Regions from separate parts of the Homo sapiens genome. Here all the other regions are linked to region 1. Evidence: fine-mapped expression QTL. A gene starts in region 1. Each other region holds a variant in brackets. All regions are shown on one strand. Distances are between the middles of the regions. Region 1 holds the start of LINC01341 (long intergenic non-protein coding RNA 1341). Region 2 overlaps SCCPDH (saccharopine dehydrogenase (putative)). Region 3 has its middle 23 kb from the start of SCCPDH.

Region 1 (10,433 bases):
CTTCCCTCACCTTCTTAACCTCAGCGAGGACCCTCAGCTCACCAGGGTGCTCAAGTACTTCATTCAAGCTGGTACTCAGCCGGCCCCCTGCCCCCGCCCTGCCCTCTCCCCACCCCACCCTCCTGCCTTCCCCTGCCCCAACCCTGCCCTCCCCCTGCCCCTGCTCTCCCCTCCCTGCCCTTCCCCTCCCCCTTCCCTTTCCGTGTCCTTCCCCTCCCCCTTCCTTTCCCTGCCCCCGCCCTGCCTTCTCCCCACCCTGCCCTCCCCCTGTGCTCCCCCTGCCCCTGCCCTGCCTTCTCCCCACCCCGCCCTCCCCTACCCTCCCCCCGTCCCCGCCCTTCCCATGCTTCTTGCCCCACAGGCATGTTTCTTTTCTTTCTTGTTTTTTAAATATTTTTCATTTTGGTAAAATATACATAAAGTTCATTTGAACCATTTTAAGAGTACAGCTCAGTGGCATAAAGTACATTCATATTGTGTGACCATCACCACCATCCATCTGCAGTACATTTTCATCTTCCCAGACGGAAACTCTGTACCCATGAAACGGGAGCTGCCCCTCCCCCTCCAGCCCTGGGAGCCACTGTCCCACCTTCTGTCTCTGTGTGTTTGACAGTGGGGGGACCTCAGATAACCCCTCCCCCTCCAGCCCTGGGAGCCAGTGTCCTACCTTCTGTCTCTGTGCGTTTGACGATGGGGGGACCTCAGATAACCCCTCCCCATCCAGACCAGCAGCCACTGTCCCACCTTCTGTCTCTGTGTGTTTGAGGATGGGGGACCTCAGCTAACCCCTCCCCCTCCAGCCCTGGGAGCCAGTGTCCCACCTTCTGTCTCTGTGCGTTTGACGATGGGGGGACCTCAGATAACCCCTCCCCATCCAGCCCTGGGAGCCAGTGTCCCACCTTCTGTCTCTGTGTGTTTGAGGATGGGGGGACCTCAGATAACCCCTCCCCCTCCAGTCCAGCAGCCACTGTCCCACCTTCTGTCTCTGTGCGTTTGACAATGGGGGGACCTCAGATAACCCCTCCCCCTCCAGCCCTGGAAGCCAGTGTCCCACCTTCTGTCTCTGTGGATTTGACGATGGGGGACCTCAGATAAGGACCTTTTCATCCATCTCTCACTGGCTTATGCCCTCAGCAGAATGTCCTCAAGGTGCATCCATGTAGCATGTGTGAGAATTTCCTTCCTCTTGAAGGCTGAAAACCATTCCCTCGGATGTATACAGCACGTTTTATTCATCTATTATCCTGGCATCGTTCTTGTTACATTTTTGTTTAGCGGTTTCTGAGGAGGGCATCAGCTGTTGAATTGTCTTCCTGACCTAAATGAGTGCTGAACAGGTTGGAACACAGCGCCCAGAACCGCAGGAGCCCCTGGCTTCCCCTCCCCGGCTGTGCACCCCCAGGACGGCCGCGAGGGCTCCGTGCACCCCCAGGACGGCCGCGAGGGCTCCGAGCACCCCAAGGACGGCCGCAAGGGCTCCGTGCACCCCCCAGGGCCGCCGCGAGGGCTCCGTGCACCCCCCAGGGCGGCCGCGAGGGCTCCGTGCGAGATGGCCGTGGGATGTGGGGATGTGGGGGGTGACATGTCTGCACTCCTTGGGGTCAGTCACTACACAGAAACGGAGCTTCAAACACCAGAACCTCTGCTGTGGCCAGTATTCAGTGGGTCTCCTAAGGCCCAGACCTAATGGTGTCTTCCTCCAGAATGCTCATGAAGAAGGTGGAACTTTTTAAAAGTTAGGAACATCCCCGCTCTTCCCCCCACACACAAGGCAGAAAGAAAAGTATGTCTAAGTACCATTATGATTGAAAATCCCAACTGGAAAAATCCCTTCAGTACCATCCCACTGTAGAGAAAACGTCACTTCCAACGCATCAGACATGTTAACTTCTTACGCTCAAATTCTGAAAGTGTCTGATTTATTTTCAAAATAAATTATATCTTGATTCCTTTCAGGTTCATGTGGCACCGGTCAGGCTGCCTCAAATGCTATCACGATTCAAGGTTTGGGGTGAGTTTCCATGATCAGTGTCCTCGTCCAGCATTAGAGAATTGTGCCTCCTCCATCTAGAGGTCTGCAGAGCCACACAGTCTGCAGGACAAGCAGGGACACTGCCCAGGTCTCCCCGGGCCACCTACTCCAGGGCTGGTCTGAGAAAGCTGAGGGCAGGGCTTTCGTCCTCTGGCTGAAATCTAGGGTGCAGTGCTGGTTTGCTTCCTGGGCTCCAACCCTGGGAGAAAAGGGAAAGCTGGTTTCTAGATTCTGTGTAATAATTCTTCACAAACAGATATAAGTAGAGCAGGCCAGGAAACGAAGGGGGCTGAACGAACAAGCCCACCGGGGGTGGCCCAAACATAAGCGCATCCCTGGATCTCTCCTGGTGCTTGGAGCCCTGACCCACCGGACTACAGAAAGCCCAGACTGTGGAGTGACCCCAAGGGCTCCCTCAGGAGGCCCCGCAGGAGCCCTGGGAAACCCCATGCCGGGCCTCACCCAGTCAAGAGCTGTCCCCAGCTCTGTGGCTGCCCTGCCTGGGAGGCTGCTGCTGGAGTGTCCTCCTCCTGCTTCCAGCTCTCCAGCTGGGAAGCACCATCACCTACATCCTTCAGACAGATCACCCCCTGCCCCCGTACGAAAGCCCACGGGCCGTCGTGGCTGGAGGGGTGCTGACCCAGGGGCCGGCTGGCCCCGCCTCGTCCTGCACTGCCAGCCTCCTTCTTGGGACATCTTCCTGGGGATCCCCCTCAAGTCCCTTTCCAGAACACGTCCTTAGTCCAACGCACAGGTGCGTAAATGTCTGAACTCCAGTGATGAGGCCGCAACCTTTCCCACAGGATCCCTGGGCCCCATGCAAAAAAGGGTTTGGATGCACACGGGTCTCCACATCCAGAACATTCCATGATGGCCAAGGAGTGCAGGAACATGGAACATGCTAAGGCAGGGAGCCAGTCATTCAGGACACACAGATGACATCGGTGCAGGGGAGCAGGGCGGGGAGAGGGGATGCCAACCTGACACCCCGACGTCCAGCCCCAAATCCTATAAGGTCTGAATTTATACGGCGAGGGCGCAGAAACAGATCAAAACGTACCCGGAGTAGGTGAGGCTCGTTAAGAGTCGCCTCCTGAGCGTCTCTTCTGAAGCTTGCTTGCTGCCATCTTCCCACCACCCCATCCCGCTGGCCTGGGAGCGGGAGGACTCCAGTGTGGCCTTGGCCGGCTCCCCGCAGTGCTAGGCCCTCAGCTGGTGTTCGTTCTGTTAATGAAGCCCTTGCCTGCTGTCTCCCAGCTCCCCGTGCTCCCCAAGGGCAGGGTCCTTCTGCGCCCGCTGCTGTCCCCATGCATCATGGGCCACAGCACACAGGAGGCCCCGAGATGCCACCTGCCATCCTCCGCAGCTGTAGACCTTCCCTCCTGTGCACATGAGAAAGGTCAGCCTACCTGCTCACGGAAACCGCCGTTTGCTGGGTGTCTTTGACTCTCATCTTCTTAGAATTTCAGATAAACACGCTTCCTTCACAAATGCCGACGGTAAAGTGACGGTCACTCCACATAGCAAATGCAAGGTTGCCGTTAACGGGGTGCCCATCACCACCAGGACAAAGCTGCAGCATTTGGTAAACTTTCCTGCAGGCTCACAGAATGTCCTAGGTCCCCCCCAAGAGCTGGGAGGGGACAGTCATGTGAGGTGCCCACATCACAGACGTGGCAGGATGGGGCGTTCACACCAGCTCCTCTGCCACCATGGCTTGGGGACAACATGGCACCACTGCTGGAGGGACAGGCCTGCTCCTGACTCACTGTGTGGTCTTGGGCAAGTCACTTCACTCCTCTGACCTCACCTGGAAAACAAGGAGGGCTGAACTAGGTGTTCTCCAAGGTCCCTTCCAGCTCTAACATTTTGTGCCATTTTAGATTTTTCTAAGAGCCTGTCACTGAGAGGGGTTGAACAGCATCTTGCAAACATCGCTGCCTCTTCCTCCCCAATCTGCCAACCCTGGGGCCCCTGCCAGCTTCCCAGCAGCCCTCTCCCCTCCCTGGTGGCCACAGCCTTTCAGACAGGACAGGCAGATGGGGATTGGCCGCTCCCCATTTGGAAAGCCCCCTCAGTGACCTCCCTCGGCCTCCTGTCCCTGGCCACACTGCCCTTCTTTTGGTTGTTCAGCAGCCGTCTCTGCCTCACCAAGACTTACCGCCCAGGAGGGCTTAGCTTGGGCATCACGCCTCGGAAAAGGCCGTCTGTAGCCTGTAGTCTGAGTTAGGTCCTGGTGTCCCCTGCAGCCATTGCTGCACTCACCCAGACCAGCCTGGAAAGCGTGGAGGGAGGGCCTGGCTCTGGGTGGTCCCCACAGAACCCCAGGGCCAAGGGAGTCACGCCCTCAATGTGTGCAATGAAGGTGAACGCAGGAGCCAGAGGCCACCTCCCTCCTGTCTGCGTCTCTCCCTGTCTGGGGGATTCCTGAGGGGAGGACATTCCTCAGATCCTTCTCACTGGGGAGGTTCACCTCACCCTCCTTGGCCTCGAACCCCTCCTGAGCCCACCGTCTCCTCCCCAGGACCGCCTGATTTTGGGATCCAACAGCACCTACCTGTACGTGGGGTTTCCTTCGGAGTGGGGCAGTGAGGACCTGAGCAGGTTCGATTACGACTTCTTCCAGCTGGAGAGGGCGGCTGCGGAGGGAGCGAGTGCAGACAAACTCGGTGAGCCCCCTCCTGACTGCTGGCCTCTCCCGTGTGCTGATCTGAGAGCAGCGATTTCACACTGTGTCTCTCTGCTTTCCTTAAGAACATCATCATTTGTTTTGTCAAAGTCTGATGTTTACAAAATTGAATTATGATTTCCATATAGAGTGACTACATGGTAAACATTCAACTCGTTAAACGTTCCCTGAGGAATGAGGGTAAAGATGGTTCAAAGGGGTAGAGAAGAGAGTGGGGTACCCAGCAAATGAGAGAAGAATGCTGAGCTGGAGAAGCCAGTTAGTGGCCTCCGGCCGCCCCCAGGGGCCTGCTGGGCCTGCAGAAGCAGTGGCCCAACTCCAGAGGGGCCGGCTGGGGCCTGCTGTGGGCTGCAAATGCGCGGCCCGGAAGAACGTGCAGCCCGAGGCCTCTGAGACAGAATCTCCCCTCCTCGCCCGAACGCAGCCCCCAGCAGTAGCCCACGCGGGCCGCCCGCCGCTGCCGGTCTCTGCTGGGGCTTTCGCGCGCCTTCCCCGCCCCTCTCCCCGCCCCGATTCACCGCGCTCCGGGCGGCTCCCCCAGAATCCTGGCCAGGCCGGAGCCCGCTGCGATCTGAGTGACCTGCGGGCTTCCCGGAGGGGCCCCACGCTTTGCTCGGCACCGGGACTCTGCCTGAACTCGCAGTAATGAAACCGCTGGTGGAAAGTGGGCAGATCCACCTGTGTGTGTGCAAGAGCTCCTCCCTGTCCCCACACCACAGTGTTTCTCTCAGAATTTCAGCAAAATAAATCGATTAGAAATTCACCTCCTTGCTCTTCTTCTGCTGAAGTTTTCGACTTTTAAAAATGAACAAGGCCGGGCGCGGTGGCTCACGCCTGTAATCCCAGCCCTTTGAGAGGCCGAGGCGGGCAGATCACGAGGTCAGGAGATCGAGACCATCCTGGCTAACACAGTGAAACCCCGTCTCTACTAAAAATACAAAAAAGTAGCCGGATGTGATGGCACACACCTGTAGTCCCAGCTACTCAGGAGGCTGAGGCAGGAGAATTGCCTGAACCTGGGAGGAGGAGGTTGCAGTGAGCTGAGATCGTGCCACAGCACTCCAGCCTGGGTGACAGAGCGAGACTCCATTTCAAAACAAAACAAAACAAAACAAAACAACGAACCAGTAAGACTCTGTCATACCAGGCCCGGAAAAGCCATCTGTTCATTGACCTGTCCTCAGAGGTTGACCGTGCCACTGCCCCTGTGGCCCTGGTGGCGCCATGAAGCTGAACCAGCCCCAGACCCTGGCTCGGACCCTAGGGAAGACTTGGGTCCCCAACAAGGCAGCAGCTGTGTGAGCAGTTTGGGGTCAGACCTCAGGGCCAAGGGCACTGTGTGCACCCACAGGCCAGGGGTCTCTAAGAGTTGAGATTTCCTGATTAGAGGCAGTACCAGCCTGGGTTTGGGAGGGAGATTGATCCTCCCATAATCTCCACGAGCCCCTCCTTCAAGCCACCCCAAGTATAAGAGAAGCACAGGTCACTTGCTGTGCCAGCAGCAGCTTGAGGATACCTCCAGGCCTTCCGTCTAGCCAGCCATGTTTCACCTCGCCCCACCCTCCTCCAGTCTGGAGCCACCTTGGGTCAAGGACCCTGAGACCAAGAATGGGAACTGGGGGCAGAGGACCTCCTGCCTGCGGCCAGGATTCATGGGTCGAGATAAGCAACCACGTAAGGAGAAGCCAGGCAGTGTCATTTTCCCTTGTTTGTTTTTAAATTACATGCTTGTAATTTTAAAATGTAGATATTTGATGAACAGCTGAACAAATGAATGAACAAATAAGCATACACATTTATTCATGGCGGCTGGGCGTGGTGTCTCATGCCTGTAATCCTAGCACTTTGAGAGGCCAAGGCAGGAGGATCGCTTGAACCTGGGAGTTCAAGACCAGCCTGGGAAACAAAGTGAGACCTCATCTCTACAAAATATTTTAAAAATTAGCCAGGCATGGTGGCTTGCACCCGTAGTCCCAGGTACTCAGCAGGCTGAGATGGGAGGATTGCTTGAGTCTGGGAGGTGGAGGCTGCAATGAGCAGAGATCATGCCACTGAACGCTAGCCTGGACGACAGAGCAAGACAGCTGTCTAAAAAAAAAAGAAAAAGGGCTTGGCATGGTGGCTCATGCCTGTACGCCTGTAATTCCAGCACTTTTGGAGGCCGAGGTGGGCAGATCACCTGAGGTCAGGAGTTCGAGACCAGCCTGGCCAACATAGTGAAACCCCATCTCTACTAAAAATACAAAAATTAGCCGGGTGTGGTAGTGCGCACCTGTAATCCCAGCTACTCAGGAGGCTGAGGCAGGAGAATTGCTTCAACTTGGGAGGCAGAGGTTGCAGCGAGCCGAGATGGCGCCACTGCACTCCAGCCTGGGCAACGAGAGTGAAACTCTATTTCAAAAAAAAAAAAAAAAAAAAATTCTTCATGGCGGAACAAGTGACTGACTTTCGCCTCCACTGTGATTGTTGCCAGGTGCTGCGGACGGTGGAGACGGCAAGGCGGGCCCCAGTGTCCTGGCTGCGTTCCAGGACTACATCAAACTGATGCCGCTGGTTCAGAAGCAAATCAAATGAGTGAAGAGCCAAAGAAGGTAAGTTAGCTGGAGCCAGGAGCTGGTGTGCCAGGTGCAGAAAGGACCTCAAGGCCTTGTGGGGCAGGGGTGCGTTCCCAGGGACTCTCAGGGAACTAGCCACAGAAGCCAGACTGCCCAGCCCAGGCCCGAGTACCATTCCTTTCACCAACAGCCTACCAGGGCCACCGGGATCCCAGACCAACTCTTGCTGGCCATGAGCAGGCCCTCCCAGATGGTCCTGGGGCCTCTCCGGGTCTAGGCACCCTGATGGCTGCTGTGCCACACAGACCACCTGGGCTGGGGACAGCTCCCTGGAGACGTGAGCTCCCATCGGCCGGAACCTTGTAAGAGATTTAATCAATTTGGTAGGGACTCCAAGTGTTAGTTCCAGGATATAATGGAGAAAATCTGGTGCTCTGTCTTTCCTCTTAGTGGGAAATCCAAGGGGCAAGAGTGGGACATCTTAGAGAGAGTCTTATTCATTCATCATTTAGGAAGCCCGAGGGTGGGAGAATGAAAAATAAATTGCAAAGGTGGTATGAGCTGTGAATGTAGGATTTTTTTTTTCTTTTTGACAGGGTCTCAATCTGCCGCCCAGGCTGGAATGCAGTGGTGCAATCATGGTTTACTGCAACCTCCACTTCCCGGGTTCAAGTGATCCTCCCACCTCTGCCTCCCAAGTAGCTGGGATTACAGGTGTGCACTTCCATGCCTGGCTAATTTTTGTATTTTTAGTAGAGATGGGGTTTTGCTATGTTGCCCAGGCTGGTCTTGAACTCCTGGGCTCAAGCGATCCACTCGCCTCAGCCTCCCAAAGTGCTGGGATTACAGGCATGAGGGACTGTGCCCAGCAGAATGTACAATTATTTAGTGAGAAGTGTTTCTTTTACCAGGGACTTAACATGGAATTGAAGGTGAAAAATTTGGCATCGTCAGATTCCAGGGGCTATGACCTACAGAAGGAGGTCTTGGTGAAGGTGACCCACCACGGGTCTCACGAGGTGAGGCCCCACAGGGATGGGACTCAGGAGGTGAGGATCCATGGGGATGGGACTCAGGAGGTGAGGATCCACGGGGACGGGACTCAGGAGGTGAAGATCCATGGGGACGGGACTCAGGAGGTGAGGATCCACGGGGAAGGGACTCAGGAGGTGAAGATCCATGGGGACGGGACTCAGGAGGTGAAGATCCATGGGGAAGGGACTCAGGAGGTGAGGATCCACGGGGAAGGGACTCAGGAGGTGAAGATCCATGGGGACGGGACTCAGGAGGTGAGGCCGCACGGGGACGGGACTCAGGAGGTGAGGATCCACGGGGACGGGACCCAGGAGGTGAGGATCCATGGGGACACAGGTTATCTTTACCAGCTGCAGCCTCCGGAGACCCAGTCAAGGGCAAAACGTATTCCAAGTATGAGCTGGAGCTCTGGGGAACAGGGGGATCCACTCTCCCGTTCCCTGTCCTGGGTCCTCCCTCCCAGCACCAGCCATTCCCTGTCCTGCACCCTCCCTCACAGCACCAGCTCCTGGGAGCGTTCCTAAGCTAGCCTGCACTGAGCATCTGTTCATGCTGAGTATGACTCAAAGGCTTTTGTACCAGAAGGGAGCCTGGGAGTTTATACAAGTGGTAGTGGTGTCTGTCCATGCACGTAGGTGCGTGTGTGTGTGTGCAAGTGTGTGTTTGTGTGTACATGTGCCCGTGAGAACACAGACTGCCTTTCTGCAGCAATGAGAAAAGCAATCCTCCTAGGGACTCCAGAAAAGGCTGTTTCACCAACTCCACTGGCTGGACCTTACTATCAGGAAATTCCATTTTAGAAACTTAAGACCCTGTTTCCTCTCCCTCTGCCTCCAAAGGAGGAAACAGAAATGCAGGCCCATCTTGCAGCACCCCTTGTGCATATCAGGCCCCTGGAGGAGCAGCCCTCAGGCTTCCGGCTCCAGCACACTCACCCGTTGCCTTTCCAGACTGCGCCTCCGGCCCCCACCCCGGGCTGCTCCCTCCCTGCTCAGCAATTGAAGCTTCTCTGAGTTTCACTTTTCTGCTCATCTGCTCATCGCCCGAAAATTGCCAAAATGTTCTGGGCCGAGACCGATTTTTGTAAAGCTTTTAAAAATTGTGAAATGAGCTAAGACTATAAGCATGTGTGTGCGTCCCATGTGGTCAGCACCTGTGCACTGCATCCACCACCCCGTCCACGGGGTTTCGCCCTCCAGGTGCTGGGGCTGCCAAGATGCTGCCCCAGGGAGGAAACCAAGCAAGGATCCTCCTGGAGCCCAGCTCCTCAGAGACCGGCCCCTTTCCTGCAGGTCTGTGTGATGCAGACAGGGTCTCCCGTGAGACCCTCACCCTAGGGAGTCAGCATGGACTTCTCTGCCATGTTCCGTGAGGCCTTGGAGGGGACCCCTCAGTGTGTTTGTACTTTGCATTTTTCTTTTTTTTCCAGCAAAGGCCACTGGGGCAAAGTGGCTCTGGTGCCCCGATATTCCACGTGCCTCTTTCGGGCCAGGCTTTCCCCTAGAATTTGGCTTGGCAGTTTCCTGTCTTGTCAGACCTTGTTTTAAGAAAATTTGTAATTCTAAAAAACCATTTTCCATGCTATTCTATTTTGTATTATAGTCCAAGGTAGTTCGAAAAATAGCCTTTTAAACTGTTGCTAACAGAAGGGTTATTGAGTGCACACGAAGACACTCATGAGCACCTGCCTGTCATTACCAGAAACAGAACAGGAGACGGTGTTCTCACACTTATCATTGGGAGAATTGTATGGGAGGGCTGAGGGCCTGGATTCATGCCCTCATTTTCCTTCAGCCCAGCATCCTGTCACTGGGACAGGTAGCTGTCTGATAGGACTGCTTCTGCTTAAACATACCAGGTTCTCTTTTAAGGGGGTCGTACAGTTTGTTTTTTTTTTTTTCTATTTTTTTTCTCATGAAGATATGAATCTTACCAATCTGTCTTCCTCAAGACTGTCCATTTTTACATTAAAACAGTAAGATTAGGCCCAGCACGGTAGTTCGCATCTGTAATCCCAGGATTTGGGGAGGCCGAGGTGGGTGGATGGCTTGAGCTCAGGAGTTTGAGACCAGCTTGGGCAACATGGTGAAACCCCGTCTCTACAAAAAATACAAAATTA
Region 2 (10,433 bases), 34 kb after region 1:
TTGAATAATCTAATTTACATAAAGAACTTAAAAGAGTATCTGAAACATAGTGCCCTGTCAAGTGTTAGATGATACCGTCATTGCACAAAGAAAAATATTATTTTAGTGTCTTAATACAAAAGAAATTACCTGTTTTTGTGTTGGGCCTTGTTTTGAAAAATAGCCAAAGGAGAAGAACCATGGGAACTAAAGGGAAAAAAAAACCGTCAGTGATATTTTTTTAAAACTCATGGAAAATACTTCTAATAAAAATAATCTAATTTCATAAAATCTTACTTACTTTTATGAGAAGTTGCCTTCCAATTCCAAACCTCACAAAGAACAAAAAGAAAAGTCCTGCAAACATCAGCTTAATAACAGAGGTGATGCCTCCCACAGTTACATACGCAGCATACTGAACCTAGATGATGGAGAAGACAAAGTTAGAACATTACTCCCTACATTTTGGACCAAGTAAGAATGTTAGTTACTTGTACCTTTCTCTTCCATCACAAATGTGGAACAAAAGCAGTTTCCACTTTACAAATGCATTATGTTCTGAAATCTTGTTCAGAAACCAGACATTGGGAGCCTATTTTTTGTTTGTTTTGTCAGACCTGGTGAACAGGAAGTATGATAGTCTACTTTTTAAAGAAAATTGTTTATAAATAGTAATTAGCTTCCCCTACTTGGGCACAAAAATCTACATAATCCCTAATATATCTGAGCTTAGCAATCATACATTACAGAACGTAGACTCCTATAAGAAAATGCCCTCCACCTTTTAACTTGAAATATAATTTCCTCCTGAAGTCTCGGCAATGAAAGCAATTACTTTCCTCGCCAAAAGCAGCAGGATGGAACTCCAGGCGTGGCAAGGAGAGAGGGGACAGAAAGGGTTCCAGACATTTCCACAAGCAAAAGAGTTTCTAGCAACTGAAACCCTAAACAGGGATTCTGGGGTGCTTATGACAGCAGGATTTCCCGTATTGAATTTGCTGCTATTGTGTTACATTAAAAAGATATTCAGCAGCCAGATCTGAATCAAAAGACAAGGTTATAAAATACAAAATGTTCTACCCTAATGATTCTGTGTATTTCCAGAGGCTGAAACATGTATTACTTAGCTCTTCCTTTTTCTGCCTTATAAACAAAAATATCCCACACTGAATAGAAAGAGGAACTGTAACACACACTTTATTGATAAATAAACCATATATACTTACTGGTGATTCCTCTAAATTTTCATACAAGTAACGTTGAGTCCTCCTTACAACAGACACATCAGATCCCATAAAAGGAATGGAATAACCTTTGAGTTCCCGACAATAAGAAATTGGCCACCTGCAAGACAGACCTATGAATATTTTGCATTTCCTGCAATTACAACTTTGGCTGGTAAATGTCTGAATAAGCAAATCAGTGGCAGGGCATGGTGGCTCATGCCTGTAATCCCAGCACTTTGGGAGGCCGAGGCAGGAGGATCACTTAAGGCCAGGACTTTGAGACCAACTTGGGCAACAAAGAGAGACTCTGTCTCAAAAGAAAAAAAAAACCAGAACGCTCCTTTCAACAGCCCAACCCTAAATTCTTACCTCTAAACTTCTCACATATGTCCTGCAGTATAAAACTAAACTAAAATAAATTTTTAAAAAAGAAAAAAAGTTCTCACATAAAATTTAGTTGACAGTTAATTTCTATATTGATAGTGAAAAGTCATCATAAGATTCACTTATTTCCTAGGATTCACATGTTTTATTACACACGAAGTACTTAAGCTTATGGTAATGGATTAATTATGTCTTATTTATCTTAAGCTTATGGTAATGGATTAATTATATCTTATTTATCTCAAGCATATGGTAATGGATTAATTATATCTTATTTATCTGTGAAAACAATTCTGAACTTACTACAAATTAGTCTCCAAGCTTTTCTTAGTAACATACTTTATTAATAGCCAACCCAACAACAATATACTTAGACTAGATATATAAAAAATGGATTTTAAGTTAATTTACCTTCTCTTCAATTTTGGACCAATGAGCGGGACAGGTTTCAGATTTGATACATTTCTTAGTTTTCTCAAATTACTCTGATCTCCAAAACCATAAATTGCTGACTTCCAGGTACCATCATGAATGCTCAACCCCTAATAAAATATTTCAAGAGTTAAAGAAACATGAAAGGGTAGTTACTAAAATGTAAAGCCAAGTAACTTATCATTGTTACAAACAATATTTCACTTATATTTGGACAAGACATAATCCCTGATTTAATAATCTTGAGGAGAATTTTCATGACCAGCTAGGGAGCAGTCACATTCATTAGCTTGATCATACCCAATATTTACACCGAGAAGCCCTTTCTTCTCCCCTCCTATCATTCTTTATATTCTGTAATAAGTTATTTAGTTTTACTTCATCAATTTTACTCAACTAATTGACCATATTCCTTCAAGATCAGCCACTCTAATCCTTTTTTTTCTGCCCCATATGATCTGCAGGAATAGCCACCCTAATCCTCTCTCGATCCTACACAAATTCCTCAACATTTCTGGATATGTCCGTGTGCACATTTATGCATACATACACTGTGTACTGTCCATCTCTCCATCCTGTTACACCTGGTTCCCCGTCTACCTCCAACACCTCTTACTCTAGCCCCAAGTTATAGATCTGTCTTCCTACTGAAGTCTTAGTAAAATAATTGTTTAAAACATTTAAAGTTCACTAATAATGATTTGTATTTTAATTGCTTTCCTCAATCCCTTGATTTCTTTTTGGTATCACAGCCAGTACAGAGTCCTTAGTATTTGCCTGATCTTACTCAGACTCTCATTTATTCACTGATTTTTCATCCTTTCATGAGACTTTGGGCTGTCAGTGCCTTCCATTCTACCAATACTCTTTACAGCTTCCCCAACCCTTACCTCTAGCGCCACCGAGAAACGAGTGGCTGAGACCCCAGGAGAGGACACGACCTCTGAATTTACTATCACAGCGCTGGCCCTTTTTTTTTTTTTTTTTTTTTGAGACAGAGTCTTGCTCTTGTCACCCAGACGGGAGTGCAATGGCACGATCTCAGCTCACTGCAACCTCTGCCTCCTAGGTTCAAGCAATTCTCCTGTCTCAACCTCCCGAGTAGCTGGGATTACAGGTGCCCACCACCATGCCTGGCTAATTTTTGTATTTTTAGTAAAGACGGGGTTTCACCATGTTGGCCAGGCTGGTCTCGAACTTCTGACCTCAGGCAAGCCGCCCGCCTTGGCCTCCCAAAGTGCTGGGATTGCAGGCATGAGCCACCGCGCCCGGCCTAGCACTGACCTTTCTTTCCCAACCTCTAGGTGGGCCTTTTAATTCTCTATTACAGGAATAAACTTCATTTATTATATTGATTGTACATAATTGTATTATGTCCTTCCTTCTATGTTGTTTACATTGTTTAGGTCAACAGAGTAATTCAGAAAGATTCAAAACTAATTCTGTCACAAGATTTTCAAAGAGGGATATGTGGGAGGCAGATATGAAGGTACCTTTCATTGTTAATAAACAAAATAAGAGAAACAATAAAACCATCCAAAGATTCAGGTTTTCCTATCTCAGCTTTGATGATACTGAAAAGCAGAGATACCAAATCTAACTTTCATTCTGGTACAGATTTATTTCTTCTGTTTTATTAAAACTACAACAGAACTAAAGTCTTAAAGGTTTGATTTGTTATCTACTCAATCTGAGCCTAGCCAAAAGGGCCTATGTGAATCTCTACAAATGTAAAGATTCCAAACACCAGGAGAAAACAGCTTTTTAAAAATCTAAACATATTTTCTTATACAACTAAGCCATTGAAAAGGAAAAAATTACATTCAATTTAAAAAACTATTTGCGTTTCACAGAAAAATATAGAGACGTACCTAATACAATTTTATTAAATTGTATATTCATGTATGTTATGAAGCCAACGTACATGTAAACATCCAGGTCAAGAACTACAGGTAACCAGCAACTAAGAAGGCCCTCCTTCCGTCCTGCCTTTACAGTAATCAAGAAAAATTCTTTTCTTTAGAGTTTAATCACCTAAGAATTCATCCCTAAACAGTACAATTAGTTTTGCCTGTTTCTAAGCTCTACAGAAATGCAATCAAGCAAGATTTATTACTGAGTGTTTGGCTTCTTATGCTCAAAATTGTGATGTCAGGATTTACCACGTGTTGTAAGTAACTCCTACATTGCAGCTAGCCTTTTGACTTTCTTAATCGTGTGTTTTGGGAAACATTCTCAATTTTAAAAGTACACAAACGTATCACTTTTTCATTACATTTAATGCCTCTTTGTCTTTTTGTAAAAGCCATTCCCAACCGTGAGGGCATCCACAATCCATCTAAACTTGATTTTGGTACGGGGTGCAAAAGTATGAATCCAATTCCATTTTTTCTCCAAGTAGATACTCAATTGTCCCAGCAGCATCTACCGAAAAGCCCCCTTGCTGTTCCTGCCAACTTGAAGCCCGGAGGCCTGCTGGGAGGAGGAATTCTAAATGACAAGTATGCCTGGAAAGCTGTGGTCCAAGGCCGTTTTTGCCGTCAGCAGGATCTCCAGAACCAAAGGGAGGACACAGCTCTTCTTAAAACTGAAGGTATTTATGGCTGACATAAAATGAGATTTGATTTGGGCAGGAAATGCGCTTATGTGTACAAAGAATAATACTGACTCCTGGCAGCAAACCAAACAAAACCAGAGTAAGGTGGAGAAAGGTAACGTGTGCCCACGGAAACAGTGGCACAATGTGTGCCTAATTCCAAAGCAGCCGTCCTGCTTAGGCCACTAGTCACGGCGGCTCTGTGATGCTGTACTCCTCAAGGATTTGAACTAATGAAAAGTAAATAAATACCAGTAAAAGTGGATTTGTAAAAAGAAAAGAAAAATGATAGGAAAAGCCCCTTTACCATATGTCAAGGGTTTATGCTGACTTAATAACAGGTCTTGATCTCCAAGAGTGTCTTTCTGCCTTATTCTCTTTCAAGAATATCTTGCCTGTTCTCAGCCCTTTGAGTTTCCACATACATTTTAGAAACAGCTTGTC[C/A]AGATGCACATCGAAACAAAACAAACAAAAAAACCTGTTTGTGATTTTGATGGGAATTGCATGAGATTATAAACAAATTTGAAGAAAATTAACTACAAAATGGATTCATATTTTAATCCATGAATACGCTGGATCCTTCAATTTATGTCTTCTTTATGGTCCCTCAATAAAGGTTTACAGTTTTCTTCAAAGAAATCTTGTACACTTTCTATTACTTACTCTTAGGTACTTGATTTATTTAATGCTATCATAAATGGTGTTTTTTACAAAAATAATCACCTTCTAACTGTAGCTGGCATACAGAAATACAGCTGATTTTTATATTAATTTCATATCCAGGAACAATAAAAACTATTGTGGAAATAAATGAAACAGAATAGAAAAAATCAACAAAACTAAAAGTTGGTTCTTTGAAGAGGTCAACAAAACTGACACATTTTGGCTAGACAGACCAAAAAAAAGAGAAAGAAAACCCAAACTACTAAAATCAGGAATAAAAGAGGGAACATTATTACCAACCTTATAGAAATAAAAAGGAGTATAAAGGAATACTATGAAAAGTGTATGCCAACAAATTAGATAACCTAGGTGAAACGGACACATGTCTGCTCAGTGGATCACGACCCTCTCACACGGACCCCCTTAGAGTTGTAAGCCCTTAAAAGGGACAGGAATTGCTCACTCGCGGAGCTCGACTGCTGGAGACGTGAGTCTTGCCGAAGCTCCCAGCCGAATAAAGCCCTTCCTTCTTTAACTTGGTGTCTGAGGGGTTTTGTCTGCAGCTTATCCTGCTACAGCCTAGTTGAAAAAATTTATGTTCAAGTGCTATTTCTTTTGCGGCACTGAAAATTTACTTCTAACAAATTTGGGGGCCCGCCCGGGATTCCCATTCTCCTTTGGTGAAGGGTCTGGTCCTCTCCCATGAGGAGGCATGCCCCGCTGCCTTGTTGCAGTGGCCTCAGGGGTAAGGAATCAAGACCCACCGGGTGTGACAAATAAACCCGGACTCTCAGCAATGCAGAAAGAAACTGGCTGGCGACCTGGGGAAAGGGATCATCACACACCGCAGCGACCAGGTAACTCTGTGCACAGACCAAGGTAAGAAACACCACAGGAGCAGCCAAGCGTTTCCTCGGTGGTCGGGATACTCTGCGGGGGTTGAAAGTGTGTGTGAATGCGAGGAGCCTCCAGCAGGTGGGGCTAAAGGATAGGAGACACATCTCTAAGATGAGAGATGGGGCCTAACCAGGACCCAATATGGGAAATACCCCAAGCAAGACAGGGACCAAGAAGGACAAAGATAACAAGGATATTCCCCTTGAGTGCCCCCTAGGTCTCATGTTAAAATACTAGAAGGATAATGAAAGGACCAAAAACAAGAAAAAGCAGCTGCTGTCCCAGACCCTTCTCCTATCCCCATTGTCCCCCTCCTTATAACCCTGCCTCCTGGGAACTGTCCCAGGAGCCCACTCACTACGAGCGTTAAGTCCTCTTCCCTAAAAGGACTTCAGCGTGAGATAGAGCAATGTAAAAAGGATTTTCAGAACTTCCCTTTCCTCTCTTCTCGGGGGAAGAAAGAGCCACGATCCGTCGAACTGCTATGGGAGTCTTGGAACGTGAACACCCTTCTGGCCAAAACGTTCCTACAGCGGATCAAAAATTTCCCGCCCAAAACCTCAGGTGGGACAATAACAATGCAGCCCCTCAAGAAAATATGCAGGACCTTAGGGAATTGATAATAAAGGGGATTAAAGAATCAGTATCCCAGAATCTTACCCAAACATTTTATGTACAGCAAGGGAAAGATGAAGCACCTATAAAATTTTTTAGATTAAAGGAACAAATGAGAAAATATGCTGGTCTAGGTCTCGAGGATCCTCTTGGGCAGGGAATGTTAAAACTGCATTTTGTCACTAACAGTTGGCCAGATATTAATAAGAAATTACAAAAGATAGAGAACTGGAAAGATAAACCTATAGAAGAGCTTCTAAGAGAAGCCCAAAAAGTGTATGTAAGAAGAGATGAAGAAAAAAGCAGAAAGCAAAAATTCTGCTGTCTACCATACAACAAAGTACCCAGGGGGCCAGAACCTGTAAAGAACCTAGACCCCCACTCTCCAGGCAACATAAAGAGGATGAAAGAGTAAAGCCAGGAGACTCAAAGGTAGAGAAAAAAAATCCTAGAGGAGAAAGACTGACAGGGAACAGAAGGAGTCAAGGAGAGAGAAAGAGAGAGAGAGAGAGTCAAAGAAAAAGAGAGAGAGAGAAAGAGACAGAGAGGCAAAGAGAGAGAAAGAGACAGAGAGGCGGAGAGAGAGAGAGACAGAGACACAGACGAAGAGGCAAAGGGAGAGAAAGAGGACAAAACAAATGTTTCGAATTAAAAATAGGTCACTTCAAAAGACAATGTCCCAAATGGGAAAAAGAACAAAAGTCATATATAAAAGCAAATCAGTTCATATTAAATTTCTGTTAATTCCAGAGGCAGGAACAAACTTATCAGAGAGAGATTTAGTACTAAAATTTGGCTTACGCCTCTATATTGATTAGGGAAAATTCCTCCCCTCCCTAAACTTGCTCCCCACCGCAGACAAAGAACACATTCATCCCAAGGTATGGTCAAAAGACAGGAATCGAGGAAAGTTACAGATTCCTCCGATTCGTGTTAAATTAAAAAAATTAAAAACCCCTGGGGAAGTAGAAAAGAGAAAGCAATACCCTATTCCTTTAAAAGTGAGGGTAAATTTAAAACCTACAATTGATAATTGAAGGTCTTCTCTGTGACGGGCTGCTTAAACCCTGTATGTCTCCCTATAACACTCAAATTCTGCCTGTAAAGAAGCCAGATGGGTCATACTGGTTAGTGCAAGAACTTAGAGCTATTAATCAGATAGCCAAACAGACTACCGTTTCTTAGCTGTACAACTGGCCTGCTTTGCAGCTAGGGAAAACCTAGGACACATGGAGTTAAATGCTAGGAGAAGCCAGACCTCATCTGCACTTCTGTCTAGGTCCTAGGCTCTACACCTAGCACATAATTAAAATCCCAAACTTACAAGGTTTTCAACAAAAGTAAAGTTTGCTAAAAGTTAAGTCTAACATGTATGATCCTAACTTCTAATCTTGTGGCCTCAGGCAGTCTAGTCCACAGACATGAAGGCAGTGTGCTTTGGAAAAGAATGGTTATCATCTTTGACATTAAAAAAAAAGGAGAATTAGCCGGGCGCGGTGGCTCAGGCCTGTAATCCCAGCACTTTGGGAGGCCGAGGCGGGTGAAGCATGAGGTCAGGAGATGAGACCATCCTGGCTAACACGGTGAAAGCCCGTCTCTACTAAAAAAATACAAAAAAAAAAAAATTAGCCGGGCGTGGTGGCGGGAGCCTGTAGCCCCAGCTACTCAGGAGGCTGAGGCAGGAGAATGGCATGAACCCGGGAGGCGAGCTTGCAGTGAGCTGAGACTGCGCCACTGCACTCCAGCCTGGGCGACAGAGCGAGACTCCATCTCAAAAAAAAAAAAAAAGGAGAATTTATGTAAAAAGAATCTTATATGGTAAATTCTTGTCCTAAAGTAAATTAACTGGTTGTTTAAAGAAAGGGATATTTACGACAAGTCAGAAAGTTAAGGCATGTCAAAGGTCGTCTGTGAAAGTCGTGAAAAATGTTATAAAAGGGAATTTATGCAAGAAATGTCATATAATTGAAAAGTAATTAGGCCTCCTGAATGTAAAACTATTGAAGAAACAGTTTATGTGCAAGGTGTGTAAGGAAAGTAAAATATACTTTTGGTAAAAGGATTATAAGGAGGCATAAGAATGTGGATTTTTACCTACATTAAAAGGTTAAAAATTGTTTTGAAGGTTTAAGCAAGGTTTGAAAAGTTAATTGTAAAGGAAATTCTGTGTGTAAACATATTGGTTAAAGTTTCTGTAAACTGGACATTAAAATAAAAGCACAACAGGTTTTTCTTAAAGTACTAACCTGTTCTTTAACAAAAATTATAAAGGGTTAAAAAGAGTCTATAAAAAACTTATGGTCAGACATTAAAATTGGATAAATATGTCTAAAAGGTTTTATTAAAATTGAGTTTAACATTAATAGCACACTAATAGAAAGGTGACATTTAGCTGATCTGCTAATTGTCAAATATAAAATGGCATTTGGGTTTCTTTGGTCTAAAAAATTAATAAAAACAGTTGCTAAAGAGAATTCTGAAGGAAAATGGATACTGCCAGACCAGAGAGAAATGTTATCCAAACCCCTTATGAGCGAAATGTTGTTCCAGCTGCGTCAAGGGACCCACTGGGGGCCCCACGCCATGTGTGACGCAGTCCTCAGAGTTTATGGGTGCACAGGAATTTATACCCCGGCCAAACGGGTTACAGACAGTTGCTCAGTATGTAAGAAAACCAATAAACAAACTATAAAAAGATTACCCCTTGGGGGAAGGAGTCCAGGCTTAAGGCCATTCCAAAGTATCCAGATTCATTACACAGAGATGCCTCCAATTGGTCGTCTAAAGTATTTATTAGTAATAATAGATCACCTTACTCGTTGGGTACAAACTATTCCCTTTTCAAGTACAACTGCTAGTAATGTAGTCAAGGCATTAGTTGAAAATATTATACCCAGGTTTAGATTAATAGAAAGCATTGACTCAGATAATAGGACTCATTTCACTGTACATGTCATTAAGAAATTAGCCCAGGTACTGGATATAACATGGGAATATCATACTCCCTGGCACCCACCTTCATCAGGAAGAGTGGAAAGAATGAACCAAACTCTAAAAAAGCCACCTAACCAAATTAGTCTAGAGACTCGGGTGCCATGGACTAGCTGCCATCCCATTGCCCTGCCTAGAATCTGAACTGCCCCTCGGAAAGATGTTCGCTTATCCCCTTACGAAGTGTTGTATAGGTTGCCCTGTTTGCACTCCACTGCTGACATTCCCACAGTCAAAACAAAAGATCAGTTCCTCAGAAATTGTATGTTTGGTTTATCTTCCACTTTCTCGTCCCTCAGAACTATAGGTCTTTCAGCACAGGTACCCCCCCGCTAGAGTTTCCAGTACACCAACATTAGCATGAGGACCGTGTCCTTGTCAAAAGCTAAAGGGAAGGAAAACTCGAACCCGCTTTCGAAGGACCCTACCTAGTGCTTCTAAGCACCAAGACCGCGGTTCGAACAGCAGAAAGAGGATGGACTCATTACACCTGGGTCCAAAGAGCACCACCCCCTCCAGAATCATGGACAGCTATTCCAGGGCCAACTCCAACCAAGCTAAAGCGAAAATGGGTTTGAACCTCCTATACTGCATCTCTTTCTTTTCCCCTTCTATTGCTAGTCCTCTCTTTACTAGTGTAACTAGGTCAA
Region 3 (10,433 bases), 88 kb after region 1:
GTTGGTCTTGCTGTCTCAAGGGCAGCAGAGATGGAGATGGAAGAAAGTTTACGTATAAGTAGATCTGTGAAGTTCAAACCTGCGTTGTTTAAGGATCAACTGCAAAGATCATATTGTCTGCAAATAGGCCATTTGATTCCTCATTTCCAATTTGGATACCCTTTATTTCTTTCTCTTGCCAATTGCTCTGGCTGGGTCCTTAACGTTTTTAAATTGTATATGTTTAAGGTATAGAATATAATGTTTTGGTGCACTTAATAAATATCCTTAACATTATTTGATGGCCATTTTTTTCTGATTTCACATTATATTCAAATTAACGAAAAAAATCCACATAGTACTGGTAGACATAATTTAAGTACTTCCCTACAGATGTACATTTAGACCTTTTCCAATTTGTCACTTTTTTTTTTTTTTAAGACGGACTCTTGCTTTGTCTCCAGGCTGGAGTGCAGTGGTGTGATCTCGGCTCACTGCAACCTCCTGTAATCTCTGCCTCCCAGGTTCAAGCGATTCTCCTGCCTCAGCCTCCCAAGTAGCTGGGATTACAGGTGCATGCCACCATGCCTGGCTAATTTTTTGAATTTTAGTAGAGACGGGGTTTCACCATGTTGGCCAGGATGGTCTCAATCTCCTGACCTTGTGATCCGCCCGCCTCGGCCTCCCAAAGTGCTGGGATTAGAGGCGTGAGCCACCGCGCCTGGCTCACTATACATATTCTTATATAACTTTTCCTTCTTAATAATCGTATTAGAGTAAATTTCCACATCTAAGATTACCGTGCCAAAAGCTCTTGCTCTCTATCCTGTATTTCACATCTATGGTACGTTTATTGAAGTATGGCTTGGGCCTGTCTGTATATATCAGTACGTGAACCTGAACTACTTCTATGGCCATTGCAAACATAAAGGTCTGGGGAAGCAAAATCTTGGTGAACAAATAGAGTTTCCAAACTTTTTTACTAGATCATGTTTTGATAATGGGGGAGGGAAAGTAGTGTCTTTCTTTACTTATGAATCATAGCAATAAGTAATTGGTTATTTAGCCTTCCAGAAAATAGATTCTGACTTATGTTTATGGGCAGAAAAGATTTCCCACAAGATATTTGGGCGTTGTCTGAATGTCTGAAATTGCTCAACTCACTTGCTACATTCTTTCAGTACTGCCTCACTATAGAAAGAACCAGAGAGATGGAAAATAAGTTTACCACTAAGACGGTTTTACATCACATTCTTTCAGTACGGCCTCACTATAGAAAAAAACAGAGAAAGGGAAAATAAGTTTACCATTAAGATGGTTTTACACCACATTCTTTTTCTCTTTGAGATTTATTTTTTAAAAAATCTTCGAGTCAGGTCAGGCACATTCACGCCTGCCATCTCAACACTTTGGGAGGCTGAGGCAGAAGGATCACCTGAGCCCAGGAGTTTGAGACTAGCCTGGGCAACATAATGAGATCCTGACTCTACAGAAAAATAGGAAAATTAGCCAGGAGTGGTGGTGCACACCTGTAGTCCCAGCTACTCAGGAGACTGAGAGGGGAGGATCACTTGAGCCCAGGAGTTCAAGGCTGCAGTAAGCTATGATCATGCCACTGTACTCCAGCCTGGATGACAGAGCAAGACCCCATCTCAAAAAAAAAAAAAAAAAAAATCTCCAAGTCCACAGAAAGATTAAAAAATGATAATAATACAATAAATACCCATATGCTCTTCTTAATTCACTAATTGTTAACATTTTGCCACTGTTTTTCTCTATCTCCATACATATATTTTTTTCTGAACCATTTAAAAGTTGCAAATATACTGACCTTCGCCCCTAAAATTTTCTAGCATTCACTTATTTCTTGAGAACAAAGACATTCTCCTACATAATCATAGCACCATTATCACACTGAAGAAATGTAACATTGTTACAATAATATGAACTAATAGCTGGAATATATTCACATTTCAAATTGTCTTGAAAATGTCTCATAATATTTTTTAAAATCCAGGCTTCAATCTTCAATCGAGGATTATACATTTGGTTGTCATGTCTCTTTAACCTCCTGGAATCTGGAAGAGTAACCTCTTTTAAAAAAATCTTTTATGACTGACATTTTTGAAGAGTTCAGGCCAGTTGACATGTAGAATGTCACACAATCTGGATTTGTCTGACTGTATCCTCAGAATTGGATCCAGGTTTAAAAATTCAGCAAGAATACTACATTGGTGATTTTTTTTTTTTTTTTTAACAGTCTTGCTCTTGTCGCCCAGGCTGGAGCAGTGGTGCAGTCTTGGCTCACTGCAACCTCCACCCCCCAGGTTCAAGCGATTCTCCTGCCTCAACTTCCCGTGTAGCTGGGATTACGGTGTGCACCGCCATGCCTGGCTGATTATTGTGTTTTTAGTAGAGATGGGGTTTCGCCATGGTAGCCAGGCTGGTCTCAAACTCCTGACCTCAAGCAATCCACCCACCTTGGCCTCTCAAAGTGCTGGGATTACAAGTGTGAGCCACCGCCTGCATTGGTGATTTTAGTAGGAACTATTCTAAGGTGATCCCCAAACGACCCTTGTCCTTGTGTCACTTCCTTCCCGTAAATGTAGGTAGAGCCTGTGAATGTGAAGAGCTGCCGCTCCTGTGGCTATGTGACCTTCAACGACGAGGAATTTCACAGATGTAGTTAAGGTCTCAAATAAATTTATCTGAAATTTGAGAGATTACTCAAATGGGCCTAGCCATTTAAATCCTGGTCTAGAGATCAAGACGGAGGAAGCCAGAAATGTGAATTTCAAGAAGGGCTCAATGTGTCTTTGATGGCTTAAAGATACAGGAAACCCCAGGGCCGGGAGTGCAGGGAGCCTCTCGGAGCTGAAGCAGCTCCTGGCTGACAGCCAGCGAGGAAACCAGGAAACCTGGGTCTTGCAACCACAAGGAACTGAATTCTGCCAACGACAAGAATGAGTTTTAAAGCAGATTTTGCCCGGAGCCTCCAGATGGGAACTCAGCCTGGTCCGCAACTTGATTTCAGCCCAGACATGCTGTGCCAGGCTTTTTTATTTATTTATGTAGAGAAGGAGTCTCGCTCTGTTGCCCAGGCTGGAGTGCAGTGGCGTGATCTCGGCTTGCTACGCTACAACCTCTGCCTCCCGGGTTCAAACGATTCTTCTGCCTCAGCCTCCTGAGTAGCTGGGATTACAGGCGCGTGCCACCATGCCCAGCTAATTTTTGTATTTTCAGTAGAGATGGGGTTTCACCATGTTGGCCAGGCTGGTCTCGAATACCTGACCTCAGGTGATCCACCCACCTCAGCCTCCCAAAGTGCTGGGATTACAGGTGTGAGCCACCGCACCCAGCCAGCAGTTTTCTAATTCTATTGTTCCTTCTGTATTTATCAGCTGGAAGTTGGGAAAATAATTTCTTCATCAACTATTTGTTTACTCTGAAATATTACTGCTAAGGAAAAACAGGAAAAAATACCTGATTTTTTCTTTTTACCAATTTTCAAGATGATAACAGATCAAGTAATATTTTTAGAATCATTATAAACTAATGGGTTTTTATTTGTTTAATATGTTTCAATACATCACAGTCAAAATTTTTCTTGATATTCAAATTGTCCCATCTTTGGCCACTAGTATTCCCTTCAAGTTAGCATCTGTATTCTTTTTTTCTTCTTTATTGAGGTATAAAATAAATATAATAAAGTTTTAAAATACATTACCCTGAAATGTAGAAATCATTGAATTTTAATATATATACGCACCCTGCAACCACCACTCAGATCAAGATACAGGATGTTCCCAGCACCAGAGGATTTCCCTGTACTCCTTTTCATTCAGCACCATCCTCTCCAGGGGTAACCACTATTCTGATTTATTGAACTTCATATAAAAGGAATCATTCAGCCAGGTGCAGTGGCTCACACCTGTAATCCCAGCACTTTGGGAGGCCGAGGTGAGTGGATCACCTAAAGTCGGGAGTTTGAGACCAGCCTGGCCAACGTGGTGAAACCCCATCTCTACTAAAGATACAAAAATTAGCCAGGTGAGGTGGCACATCCCTGTAATCCCAGCTACTCGGGAGGCTGAGGCAGGAGAATCACTTGAACCTGGGAGGCGGAGCTCGCAGTGAGCCAAGATCGTGCCACTGCACTCCAGCCTGGGCAACAGAGCGAGACTCTGTCTCAAGAAAAGAAAGGAATCATTTGGTATGCACTCTTTTTGTATCTGGTTTCTTTCATTCAGCATAATGTCTAAGATTCATCCATATTGCTGCATATATCAGTAATTCCTTATTTTTATTGCTGTATAACACTATGCCATATGAATATAGTTTTTAGTTAAATTTTTATTCTTTTTTTCCTTTTTTTTTTTCTTTGTGAGATGGAGTCTCACTCTGTTTCCCCGGCTGGAGTGCAATGGCGCAATCTTAGCTCACTGCAATCT[C/A]CGCCTCCCGGGTTCAAGTGATTTTCCTGCCTCAGCCTCCCGAGTAGCTGGGACTACAGGTATGCACCACCACACTCAACTTATTTTTGTATTTTTGGTAGAGATGGGGTTTCACCATGTTGGCCAGGCTGGTCTCAAACTCCTGACCTCAAGTTATCCACCCACTTTGGCCTCCCAAATTGGTCGGAGTATAGGCATGAGCCACTGTGCCTGGCCAGTTTAGTTTTTTGTTTGTTTGCTTTTTGTTTTTTGATTTTTGTTTTTTTTTTTGAGACAGAGTCTTGCTCTGTCGCCCAGGCTGGAGTGCAGTGGTGCGATCTCGGCTCACTGCAAGCTCCGCCTCCTGGGTTCACGCCATCCTCCTGCCTCAGCCTCCCAAGTAGCTGGGACTACAGGCGCCCGCCACCACGCCCGACTAATTTTTTTTTTGTATCTTTAGTAGAGATGGGGTTTCACTATGTTGGCCAGGATGGTCTTGATCTCCTGACCTTGTGATCCACCCGCCTCGGCCTCCCAAAGTGCTGGGATTACACGTGTGAGCAGTTTAGTTTTTATTCTGCTGCTGATAGCTAATTGGGACACTTCTAGCTTTACTATTATGAATAAGGCTGCTCTGAACTTTCTCATACACAAGGCTTACTACTCAAGTGTACTCATTTCTCTTGGATTTATACCTAGGAGTGAAATTGCCAGAGTAAAGGGTAGGTGTATGTTTAGCTCTGGTAGATCCTGCTAAGCAGTTTTCAAAAGTGGCTGCTTCGGTTAACACTTCAACTAGTAACTGATGAGAGAAAGTTCCAGTTGCTCCCTAACATCATCAACACTTGGTATTCCCCATCCTTTTAATTTTTGAGTTGTTATGTAATGATATTTCATTGCACTTTTAATGTGTGTTTACCTGGTAACTAATGATATAGATCACATTTTCTTATGTCTTTTGGTCATTTGGATATCCTCTTTTTTTTTTTTTTGAGACAGAATCTCGCTCTGTTGCCCAGGCTGGAGTGCAGTGGTGCAATCTCGGCTCACTGCAAGCTCCGTCTCCCGGGTTCACGCCATTCTCCTGCCTCAGCCTCCCAAGTAGCTGGGACTACAGGCGCCGGCCACCACACCCGGCTAATTTTTTGTACATTTAGTAGAGACGGGGTTTCACCATGTTAGCCAGGATGGTCTTGATCTCCTGACCTCGTGATCCACCCGCCTCAGCCTCCCAAAGTGCTGGGATTACAGGCATGAGCCACCGCACCCGGCTATAATCAGAATAATTTATTATGAAAATTAAAATATTCTCAAAATGAGTAAGGAGGATTAACATGTGACATCTAATGAAACATATTGATTTAATCATGTATGGCCTCCAGCTAATTACACACCCACATCTAGCTGTGAGACACACTCTGCTGTTGCCAACTGTCATCTGCACATGTAAGTTTCCAAATTCCATAAGTGAGGTGACTCGAAGTCATAAGAGAAAACTATATTTTGGTTGCCTGATAGTGACTCTCATCTCTGCCTTCCAAGAATCTATGCAGAACTGTGAGGAATCCAGGTTTTGTTTCATCCAGACCCAGGCTTGCCACGAGACATACCTTTAGGCTGCCTGGCATGTATTAATATTCCAGGAAACGGTGCGTTATGCTGGGTTTGGGCCTTTTTTCATTCTATTTCATATACATCTGGCACATATACAAATGTAAATGTCATTTCCATAATAGTTCTTATTGAGCCAGGTGCAGTGGCTTATGCCAGTAATTCCAGCACTTTGAGAGGCCAAGGTGGGAGAATTACTTGAGCCCAGGAGTTTGAGACCAGCCTGAGCAACATGGTGAAACCCCATCTCTACAAAAATAAATAAATTAGCCAGACGTGGTGGCAGGCACCTGCGGTCCCAGCTACTCAGGAGGCTAAGGTGGGAAGATTGATTGAGCCCAGGAGTTTGAGGTTGCAGTGAGCCCAGGAGTTTGAGTGCCGTGATGGCGCCACGGCACCCCAGCCTGGGCGACGACAAGACCCTGTCTCAAACCACCCCCAACCAAAAAAACCCCAAAATAGTTGTTATTCTTTTTTTCCTATATTTTCTGTGAACCCAATAGCAGTGGTTTATGCAATATCTTTCCTAAGTCCTAGTAAGAACAAAACTCCCACAAATTACTGCAAACTAGAACATTTCAAATAAATATTCTATAATAACAAAAATGATACAAGTTGGCCAGACGCCGTGGTTCACGCCTGTAATCCCAGCACTTTGGAGGCCGAGGCAGGCAGATCACCTGAGCTCAGGAGTTCGAGACAAGCCTGGCCAACACGGCAAAACCCCATATCTACTAAAACAAAACAAAACAAAACAAAACAAATACAAAAAATCAACTGGGCGTGGTGGCGCACGCCTGTAGTCCCAGCTACTCAGGAGGCTGAGGCAGGAGAATCACTTGAGCCTGGGAAGTAGAGGTTGCAGTGAGCCGAGATTGTGTCACTGCACTCCAGCCTCGGTGACAAAGTGAGACCCTGTCTCAAAAAAAAAAAAAAAAAAGATACAACTCATAAAACAAAATGATAAATACATTGGCACACACTGTGTCACATAGTAAGGGCTGGATTCCTAAGTTAATGAAGATTATTTAGTTGTCATCTTTATGAACATAAAACATTTCATATAAAAAGGAAATATCTCATTTAATTATCAAACAACCTGTAGGATGGGCACTCCGACCCCTGTTTTTCGCGTCTGAGGCCCGTGCACTGTCCTTCCTCGCTTTGTGTTTCGTTTCCAGGGCCTCTTACCAAGGTGTCTCTCTGGTCCTCGCTGTGAGGTGGGTCTTGGTTTCTCCGGACTGAATACTTCCTTCAGGAAGGGAACTTGTGGGGTCACTAGATGGCGCTCTCCGGCTCCTCTTGCCCGAAGGCGGCGTATTTTGATTGGCTTGTGTACTTCCCGGATCAAAGCACCTCTGGGCATTTTCATAACGACTCTTCTTACTGTTTGGGCTATAAATAGCCAGTGACTCTGCTCCACACAGCGTCCCCAGCCTAAGCCCTGCTTGAAGCCCTGTTTGTCTCCCTCAGGAGACCGAGCCCATCTGTTTCACTCTCTTCCTGAGATCATTCTCAGAAGTAGATTAAGCATGTTTCTTTTTCTCTTTTTAATTTAAACTCTACTTATTCATTTTGTAGAGATGGGGGTCTCACTATGTTGCCCAGGCTGGTCTCAAACTCCTAAACTCAAGTAATCCTCCCACTTCGGCTCCCAAAGTGCAGGGATTAGAGGCGTGAGCCACCCCGCCCGGCCACCTAAGCGGTTTTTAGCCCAGCAGCAGAAACATCTAGCAAATAGGAGCCCCACTAGCCACTCCCTCATTAGAAGATGTAAGGGGCATCTATGGGACATAATCCAATATAGGCACAGAGAACCACAGTTGCTGTTTTTCCTTCGGTTGCTCCTCCCTGGATGGGCCATACAGAATTCTGTCTCCTATAGCAGGAGGCTCACAGGCACCCCGTGGGAGGGAGATCTTCTAGCATGCAGAACACCATTTGACACTTACTAACAGGTGGCAATGGATGTTGATATGAAAGAGGTTGGTTTGCCTTCGTGGTGCTCCTCCCTGAGGTATCTGTGGGTCCAAGGCAAATGAAACACAGAAGGCTGTGGGAGGGAAGCTGGGAGAGTGGAGACTGAATGAGTGGGAAAGGAAGATGGGGTTTCCTGGTGCCCACCCTTGGTGGTCTAAGCACAGGTGAAGGGTTACCTAAGGAATCAGTAAAGAAATATTTGCAGCCGGCGCGGTGGCTCACGCCTGTAATCCCAGCACATTGGGAGGCCGAGGCAGGAGGATCACTCGAGGCAAGAAGTTTGAGACCAGCCTGGCCAACGTGGTGAAACCCCGTCTCTACAAAAAATACAAAATTTAGCCGGGCATGGTGGCACACGCTTGTAATTCCAGCTACTCAGGAGGCTGAGGCAGGAGAATTGCCTGAACCCAGGAGGCAGAGGATGCAGTGAGCCAAGATCATGCCTGGGTGACAGAGCAAGAGTCCGTCTCAAAAAAAGGAAGAAAGAAAGAAATGTTTGCACCATCATCTAGCCCTTTGGGTAAGAATGAGTTCTGAACACCCAGCAGGAGCATCATGTAGGTAGGCACAGTGACGAGTGGGACTGCCATCCTCCTTGGCTCACACAATTCTACCAGACCGGTTTACTGCAACGTCCTCTGTCTCCCCAGGAATGCACGCTAGAATCAAGGCAGGGAAACTGATGTTCAGTGGGAATATCTGGGTAAGCACTATCAAACACATTTACTAGCTCTCTTGAGACCAAAGCCATCCAAATTAGACTGCTGATATCTATTTGTTTACAGGAATTAAATAAGGATAAGAGAGCCAGGCATGGTGGCAGTGCCTGTGGTCCCAGGTACTCAGGAGGCTGAGGCGGGAGGATCACATAGGCCAGGAGCTCGAGGCTGCAGTGATTGTACCAGCGCACTGCAGCCTGGGGGACAGAGCGAGACCTCATCTCTCTCTCTCTTTTTTTTTTTTTTTTCAGATGGAGTCTCTCTGTCACCCAGGTTGGAGTGCAGTGGCGTGATCTCGGTTCACTGCAACCTCTGCCTCCTGGGTTCAAGCGATTCTCCTGCCTTAGCCTCCCGAGTAGTTGGGACTACAGGTGTGCACCACCACGCCCGGCTAATTTTTGTATTTTTAGTAGAAATGGGGTTTCACCATACTGGCCAGGCTGGTCTCCAACTCCTGACCTTGTGATCCGTCCACCTCAGCCTCCCAAAGTGCTGGGATTACAGGCATGAGCCATGGCGCCCGGCCGACCTCATCTCTTAAAAAAAAAAAAAAAAGAAAGATTTAAACCAACAACAAAAAACCCCTAACAAACATGTGATAGTTGGATTGCGAATACCGATTGGATTAGGGTGTGGCTGAGAAAACCTTGACCCAGCAGGGGCAGAAAGAAGGCACTGCCTTCGGGGCTGGATCAGAGAGGTGCTTTCCCGAGCGGCTTCCTGAGCTGCTCAGCGTTCTGGAGAGAAGGTGGCTTATTTCTGCCCCTTCCCCTGCGGCCGCTGGGCCACGCTCTGGAGGCCGGAGCCCTCCGTGTGCGCCTCTGCTCTGACTCCCGAGGGATGTCGGGCAGCTGAAGCCAGGCAGGGCTCCCGGGTGTGTGACTGTGGTTGTGAGAGTGTCCTCATGCCACATGACAGCGTGGGAAAGGGGCTTGTCTGTTCCTGTAAGGGCACCAAGGCTTCCTGGTTGTATCATTTCCCTTTGGATTTTTGACAGGATCCTTCCCATTCCCAGTGGATTCGGGAAAATCCTTTCGGGCCACTGGTCAGCATTCTTTTCCTCCAGCGAGCTGGGGCACCTCCATAAAGCTGACAGGCAAGGCGCAGGGCCCTCCTCACCACACACACACAGACACACACACACACACACACACACACACACACACGCCTACACACACACACACACACACACACACACACACACACACACACGCCTTTCAGTCACCGCAGGGCAGGGCCCCTGCGCCCAGCATGATGCTGTTCCTTTTGGAAACCACGAGGTGGCGCTGCTGAGACAAGGTCAAAGGTGAGGCTCGTTCCCCTGCGCTGCGAGCAAGAGGCGGCGCCCCTGGTCTGAGTCCTCAGCAGGATCCTGTCCTGGCTGCCGGTGCTGTGGCTTATTCATTGATTTTCCCATCACTTCAGCAAACATTGACTGAGTGCTACCAGGAGCCAAGAAATGGACAATGATCCATGTTCATTGCTATAGTACCTGAACACTTAAAAACACGCTCCCGGGCGGGTGACGCACGCCTGTAATCCCAGCTACTGAGACCTACTGAGGAGGCTGAGGCAGGAGAATCGCTTCAACCCGGGAGGTGGAGGCTGCAGTGAGCCGAGATCGCGCCACTGCACTCCAGCCTGGGCGACAGAGCGAGACTCTATCTCAAAGCAAAACAAAATAAGACAAAAACAAAACCAAGAAAACACGTTT

The links. PIP is the estimated chance that this variant, and not a neighbour inherited with it, causes the effect.
Region 2: its variant is fine-mapped to the expression of LINC01341 in tibial artery (GTEx, PIP above 0.99). The same link has a PIP of 0.9 or more in adrenal gland, caudate, lung, pituitary and prefrontal cortex.
Region 3: its variant is fine-mapped to the expression of LINC01341 in hypothalamus (GTEx, PIP 0.98).

What each region holds. Positions count from the first base shown.
Region 1 is chr1:246,783,858-246,794,290 of GRCh38, reverse strand. LINC01341 (long intergenic non-protein coding RNA 1341) reads right to left here and starts at 4,674. Exons shown (of 2, transcript NR_015422.1): 1 at 4,593-4,674; 2 at 2,805-3,845. It also overlaps the pseudogene KIF28P. RefSeq lists a silencer at 5,354-5,433.
Region 2 is chr1:246,749,924-246,760,356 of GRCh38, reverse strand. SCCPDH (saccharopine dehydrogenase (putative)) reads right to left here. Exons shown (of 12, transcript NM_016002.3): 6 at 2,001-2,131; 7 at 1,206-1,323; 8 at 281-400; 9 at 130-186. It also overlaps the pseudogene RPL35AP6. Among named protein-coding and RNA genes, the nearest start is that of SCCPDH, 31 kb to the right of the region's middle. RefSeq lists a silencer at 6,185-6,335. The variant C/A (reference allele first, on the strand shown) is at 5,062.
Region 3 is chr1:246,696,218-246,706,650 of GRCh38, reverse strand. No RefSeq gene overlaps it. Among named protein-coding and RNA genes, the nearest start is that of SCCPDH, 23 kb to the left of the region's middle. RefSeq lists an enhancer at 7,171-7,600. The variant C/A (reference allele first, on the strand shown) is at 4,431.